2 linked regions of the Homo sapiens genome follow. The protein of the gene in region 2 interacts with the protein of the main gene of each other region in a pairwise test. Each region holds a gene or a part of one and is shown on either strand. Other genes may lie near its edges.

Region 1 (3,751 bases), on a different chromosome or scaffold from region 2:
TTGGCAGCCAGCTCAGCTGGGGAAGGGACAGCATGACTCGCTTTGTCGATGAAAAGCACGAAGTTGTCAGCACAGAACCTGGCCAGTCCTTGAGAAACTCCCTCCTTGGTGGTCAGAGGTCAAGCAGCCCATGTGGCCCACGGTCCTGAAGAACTGGGCTATGTCCCTGAGGCTCCTCTCTACCGTCTGACTGTGGGGTCTGGGGAACAGGCATTTAAACCAGGCTGCTGCCCTGGGGAGTGCCCACTGGACGCCAGGGTGCCCCATAGGGACAGGGTCACAAAGCCCTGGGGCTTCCCCTGCCAGTCCTGGTGAGGACAGTGTGGTCACTATCTCAGAGAGACGAAAAATGAATATTCTGTCATTTCAGACTAAACTACTCACCCAGCTCACACTAATATGGATTTGTTAATTTTACCTTTTTTTTTCTTTCCAACTTTAGGTTCAAGGGTTGTTACATGGGTAAATTGGATCATAGGGGTTTGGTGTACAGATAATTTTGTCACCCAGGTAATCAGCATGATACCTGATATGTAGTTTTTCAGTCCTCACCTTCCTCCCACTCGGTTTTATTTTTTAGTACTGAAAGTTTAACAGATTGGTCTTACCTCAGAGGGAGGGAAGAAACCCCCCCATCGCTGGGCTCCTTGGTGTGACAGGGGTCTGGTAGGGGTTTTCAATCCCACCACCCATTCCTCCACACCAAATGCCTGAAGTCCCCACTTTGCACAGGGAGACAGCATCGTGCCAGGGAAGAGAGGTCAGGCCCGGCTACCCCTCACAACTTCCTGCTTCCCCCTCAGAGGGTGATGGGGAGACCAGAGCCCATGGCAGGATGAACTGTCACTGAACCCAGCTGGCACAGGTCTGCCAGAACACTCTGGGGGTATGCGCTGGGCTTTCTGGGTAAACCCCTGGCAAGCTGGCGTTTGCTGTCTTCTCAGTGCTGATGGAGATAGGCACACATGGGGTGTGGGAATGTGGCCACCCTCAGGCAGGTTCACGAGGGTACTGTCAGGCGCTCAGGTGTATGCCGCCTCCTGTCAGGCAGGGCTGAGGCTATTCTCCCTGGAGAAGGACAGCTTAGGAAACACTTGCAGGAAAGCTGCCTGGACCTGGGAGGTGACCCTGGCCAGCCTCCCTGCTGCCTCTCTCAGTCCTAGGCCTTCTTCCCCAGAGCTGGTCAGGGCCTGAGGGACTTTGTAGTCTAACCCCTCATTGTGCTACAATCACAGGAGTAAGTAACACTCCCAAGGCCATGTGGCTGGTGACTCGGGGGGCCCAGGTCCAGGATCCTGCCCCATCTGCAGGCCAGTGGTTCCTTGTCTCCTATTTGCTTCTTGGAGCAGCCTCCTCATAAGCCAACAGCTCCTTCACCTGAGCCCAGTCACTTTGCGCTCCTCCCCAGAACCAAAGAGCAAGACCATCTGCCCCAGGTACAGTCCTGGCCATGCCACACTCTCTGTGGCATCATGACCAAGGTGAGTGGCAGATACTGAAATCATCCAGGGCCACTGCAGGCCCCATTCCCAGTGGACTGTTCATCAAGGGACCCTGTCTCAGGCCATCTCAGCCAACCTTGTTGCCCAGCACAGGTCTGGCACATTGGAGATGATCTGTGTTGGATGGGGAAGGCAGAGGGAGGATCCTCCAGCATTGATCACCCATCAAAACCCTCAACAACCCAGACATTGCCGCTGCACTGACCCCATGCTATGAGGAGGTCACTCAGGCTGTTAGGAGCCTGCTGACTCAGGCATTGGGCTGGGGCCCTGCCTGCCTTGTCTGCCTGCCAGCGGAGCACTGCCCCAAGCCCTTCTTACTGCAGAGACAGGCTCTTGCCTCCCAGTGTGCACTTTGTGCAAGACACAGGCAGGTAAGGGTCTACCAGAGGACAGGAAGTGTTGTTGGGGCACTGTGGGGTTTGGAGGAGGCCCCTCTAGCAGGGAAAGCGAGCCCTAACCTCTGCTGGACTAGGGAGTTTAGGAAGCTGCTCTGGTTCAGGGAACTGGGGATCCAGATAACTGGGGATCAAGGCCATCTTGTGACCCCAGTGGTGGTCCCTAGTGGGACTGCTGAGCTCCAGCCTGAGAGTTCATGAACTCAACAGTGATTGCTTGTGGGTACTAATGACCCAGTGTGTGGAGACCTCATTTACCAGGTGTGCCTAGCCTGCAGGCAAATCCCAAGGCAGTGACCCTTAGGGAAGAGACAGCGTTTGGGGTCATCAAAGGCTGGGAAACCCAGGTACCTGTCAGGGAATGGGCTACAGACTGGAGCTAAGCCTTAAGGTGGGGAAGATTCCAGCACCCCTGAGTGACCACCTCTTTTGGTAATGCAAAGAAGGGATTTTGTGACTCCAGGGTGACATTTCTAAGCTTGGCATCATGCAGGGTGGGCTTGGGCTCAATATGGGTGACTGTTAGTCTAGGGCTGTCTCAATGAGGCTGTCCAGGCAGAAAGGCTTACACACCTGGCAGGCAGAGGGTCTAGAGAGGAAGGGGCAACAGGCCTAAGGAGGGGACAGCCAGGCAAGGAGGTAGAATAGGCCTTGTCTGGACAGTGGTCACCTGTTAGGTCCACAGCTTGTCCTCCCTGGCCTGACCAGCCAGGTGAGGAGAGATCCAAACCATCCACCTGAAAGCATTCAGGGTGCCTGATGACAAGACCCCAGCCACTGTGGGCTCTCATGTCCTGGTAGGAAGGTATACCTAAAGCAGGTGGACCTGGTAGTGGTGGACGCTGTCTGCCTCCCCGGGGCTTGTCTGTTTATGCCAGACCGTTTTCCCATTTGCTTCCACCTCCAGCTCAGAGAGGAATCACCTTCACACCTCTGCTAAAACTAACCCAGCTCTGCACCCACCATTCCCCACTGTGCAACACCTGCTACTGGAGAACCCTGCCCCCTCAAATACACGTCATCCTCAGGGCCCTGCGATGTGCTGTGGTCTCCCTGCCACCATTCAAGGGGCCACAGCCAGGTCCAGCCTGTCTTCCCTGGCACCAGGCTCTATGCAGTGGGGGAAACTCGGGCACCCCTAAACTATTCTCCAGTGTTCTCACCAGAGGTGGTCAGCCATGTGATGGCAAGAGTCACTTCTTAAGCTTTTGCTATCCCCAGAAACTTAAAGCAACACCAACCACACCCAAAAGTCAAGTGATATCCAGACAGCAACAGTAGAGCATTAACTGAGTGCAGGGCCGTGGTGACTCCTCGACACTCCAGGCTCTCCTGCTGGTAACCTCCCATTGGCAGAGCCAGGCACTCAGCAAAGCCCTGGACAGTCAGCAGCCTCCTGAACAGGCTCTGCTGTCCCCACTCACGACTTCAGAGCAGCTAGGACTCCTGTGACCACCCCTGTCCCCTGTTCCCCCCCACCCCGCCCCGCCCCGCCAACTGCCTCATCTCTGTCCCAAGATAACTGCTCTCCAGAATTTTCCATGATATGGTCATTTTAAAAGTTTTTTTTTTTTTTGAGACAGAGTTTTTCCTGTGTTGCCCAGACTGGACTCAAACCTCTGGGCTCAAGTGATCCTCCTGCTTCAGCCTCCCAAGTAGCTGGGACTGTAAGTGTGCACCACTGTGCCTGGCTTGATGGTGTCATTTTTCACTGTACGTGTATTTGTAAACCGTATAAATCAGTATCTTTGTGAGTTGCTTTTCTTTCTCCCTTACCTTCATGAGCTGTCTGTGTCCATACACAGTCTCCTCTGCTCCCCTAGGTGGGGTGTGATATTCCATTGAGTAGAT
Region 2 (3,751 bases):
GAGAAACATAAAGATGGCAAAAATAGACAATGGGGACTCCTAGAGCAAGGAGACAGGGAGAGGAGCAAGGGCTGAAACACTAACTATTGGGTACGACGCTTGGTACCTGGGAGACTGGATTAATCTTACTGCAAACCTCAGCATTATGCAATATACACACATAACAAACCTGCACATGTATCCCCGAGTCTAAAATAAAAGTTGAAACTATTTTTAAAAATTAGAGAAATCTTTTTTCCCAGTGTTCCAGCATGGAAGTACCACGTTCAAAACCATTTCTCCGGTAATGCTTCTTAAAGATTTCTGGCTTCCCTAACAGCCCACTCTTCCAGCACAACAGCCAGAGAGGCCAAAGCCACTTCTCAAAACAAACTTAAGAAATACATGGTGAGTTCATCAGAAAATCCTCACTTTTTAACCCATAATAGCTCACAACAAGAAAATGAACTGTTACCTCTGGTTCAATACAATTATTTTTGCATAACAAAGGGCAGTGTTTTCAAGTTGACGTGGGAAAGGCTAGTATAAACTATGGCAGAAAGGGCTGTGGAGGACAGGGTCAGGCCAAGGCTATTTGGGATCATAGAAGCCCTAGGTGTTTCATGTCCGTTTGTCAATGAATATTTATGTAGTAAACCCTACGTGCCAAGCACGATTCTAGTGCTGAAAATGAAATACTGACCAGAACACATGTAATTCTCTGCCATCAAAGAGCTTATGTGAAAAACTTTAAATGCCTGGTCCGTGAGATGGTGAGACGTCGTACGAAGACGGGGACAGGAAAGCTAAGAGGCAGGAGGGAGGCCCGCTGAGAAGGTGCTGCGAGGAGGGGGCAGGCCACGCTGGCATCTGCACAGGGCAGGATAAATGTGAAGGCTGGGGTGAGGGCATTCCTGGAAGATTTCAGAAACTCATGGAGGCCAGAAGGAGTGAGGGCCAGGAAGGGGAGGAGAGCCGGGCACTAGAAGGAGAGGTTGGAGCGAATGAGGCAGGTGGCTTGACAAGGCTGCCGTTTCTTCCCTGAACTCAGACACAAAACAAACAGAAGCGCTAAGGGGAAAGAGAAACACATCAAACAAACCAACCAACTAGTGTTTTACCTCGTTCATAGGTGGCAATGCTGTCCATGTATTTGCATCTGGATCATACTTTTCTCCTGAGCTAAGAGTCTGCTTATTTTCATCTTGGCCCCCGAATACAAACAAAAATCCTTCTGCAAAGATCAAAGGAAACACAAATATGAAATGTGAGTCTTCAACACCCATAAACGCCACAGCATATATAGAAACAGCATCTGAAGAAACTCTCTGATGACAACAATGTTCTCTTTGGATTCAGGGCTTTTATCACATCCCATTGGATCCTTGGTGATGGAGCCAAACCATCACTTTGACCATTTTGCTTTACTCATTACTGTCTTTGAGGGGATTTCCACCACCCTACAATGAAAAAGGAAGCCTGGCGTCACCCGCTCAGTCACCAGGCAACTCTGGGCCATCTCAATTCATCTCTTCTGTTCCCTCTCAGCCTCTGGGATTCTCATACAACTTTTGCACCGCAGCGCACATCTGTTCATTCTAGACCCCAGGAATACCCAGATCTGAGGCATCCGTGTGCACTTTCTATTCAAAACAGGATCTAAGAGCAACTGAACTTCCGATTTCATGTAATGGCGTATTAGGTTATTCTTCTGCAAAAAACAATTTGCTGGATAAAACATTTAAAAAATAATCTTAGCCGGGTGGTGGTGGCTCAGCACTTTTGGAAGCCAAGCTACAAGGACTGCTTGAGCCCAGGAGGTTCATAGGAGGCAACACAGCAAGACTTCATCTCTACAAAAAATAATGAAATTAGCCGGGCATTGTGGTATTTGTCTATAGTCTCAACTACTCAGGAGGCTGAAATGGGAGGATCGCTTGAGCCCAGGAGTGTGAAGCTGAAGTGGGCTGTGATCATGCCATTGTACTCCAGCCTGGGCAACGAAGTGAGATCTTGTTTCAAAAATAACAACAATAATAATCTTCTTAGAAGAGGAGAAGCCAACAAGATAACAAGGCAAAACTGAAGGGAAAATTAGGACCTACAGAGGTTATCAAGCATGAAAACCATTTTACACTGAGGGCATTTCTAATCTAGGAAAATTTAAACCTTTTGTCCTGGGGATGAAAAAGACAGAAGTTTAAGCTCCAGGTCCACAGAAAACGTGGCTTCTGGCAGGAGATCCTCTCCAAAGTTCTACACTGTCAGGATGAAGGCCAACCAGAATTCGTACTCAGATTTAAATCTCCTTGCTATCTGGGAAATCATGAGCCTTGAACTTAACTTACAGTTAATACCAAATTAGTAGTGTTTTCAGTCAACTGGCAGAAACAAATGCAAAACTTCTGTAGAAGGACCTTAATCTAAGCCTTAGATTCTAACATCCCAGGACATCTAAGGCAGAAAGTTATTGCTACAAATAATTTTTTTTTGATTTTTTTTGTTTTTTAAAGACAGTCTTGCTCTGTCGCCCAGGCTGGAGGGCAGTGGTGCAATCACAGATCACTGCAACTTCTGCCTCCTGGGTTCAAGCGATTCTCCTGCATCGCCCTCCTGAATATCTGGGATTACAGGCACATGCCACCACATACCCAGCTACTTTTTGTACTTTTAGTAGAGATGGGGTTTCACCATGTTGGCCAGTTGATTTCAAACTCCTGACCTCAAATGATCCACCCGCCTCAGCCTCCAAAAGTGCTGGGATTATAGGTGTGAGCCACTGCGCCCGGCTGCTACAAATAATGTTTAATAAATGAGCAGCATGCAGCCACAGATATCAGACATACCAAAAATTAGACTCTAAGAAAAGACCAGCAGAAGCAGATCATAGGAAGTAGTCTTGCAAAGATTTCAAATATTATAGTAACCAGAAAGATGATTTTTTTCAAGTTGGGTGATGAAGAATAAAGTCTAAAATTTATTTAAAAAACAAAGATAATTTAAACAAATGCTTATCATGTTTAAAAAATAAAAATTAACTGGAAGATAACTCCAGGTAACAGGGAACTATAGAAATAAGAGAGGATTTGAAGGTAATGGTGGATTAAGTTATTCTCCTGTAAAAAGACAAGAATTTGTAGAAATTAAAAAAAAAAAATCAATGGATAAATGTAATAGCAGATTAATCAGAGTTAAGGAGAAAAGAAGATAAATCAAAAGATAATAATCAAGAAAACAGCACAGTGAGACAAAAAGATGGAAAATAATAAGAAAATTTTAAATACACACCAGAGAAGAGATTTTTTAGACTTGCCACTGACTTCACAACAATGGAAGGCAGAAGTCAGTGGAATGACTTCAATGTGCTGAAAAATGATAAATACCAAAGCTGAAATGCTATACTCAGCAAAAATATCCTTTACGAATGAAGACAAAATAATGACATTTGCAGGCAATCAAATCTGAGAGTTGTCCACCAAAAGACCCATATTAAAGGAAATTCAAAAGGATGAACTTCAGAGAGAAGGGAGATGATCCTAGGTGGAAAGTCTGAGGAGTTAAGAAGGAAGAACGAAGAAAGTGGCAAATCTAAATGAACACTATCTACCTACCTACCTGCCTGTCTATCAATCATCTATCTACCTATCTGTCTGTCCATCCATCTATCCATCCATCCATCCATCCATCCATCCATCCATCCATCCATCCATCCATCCAACATATATCAAAAAAAGACATATTGTGTATATAGTAGCTACCCCTTATCTGAAGT

Evidence for each region.
Region 1: the proteins of GAN (region 2) and NUDCD3 interact in binary tests that used the Homo sapiens proteins (3 or more experiments, as listed by UniProt).

What each region holds. Positions count from the first base shown.
Region 1 is NC_000007.14:44,379,013-44,382,763, reverse strand, and holds the end of NUDCD3 (nudC domain-containing protein 3), read left to right. Parts: 3' UTR 1-3,645; downstream 3,646-3,751.
Region 2 is NC_000016.10:81,359,961-81,363,711, reverse strand, and holds part of GAN (gigaxonin), read right to left. Parts: intron 1,214-3,751; coding exon 1,101-1,213; intron 1-1,100. UniProt on the Homo sapiens protein: Probable cytoskeletal component that directly or indirectly plays an important role in neurofilament architecture.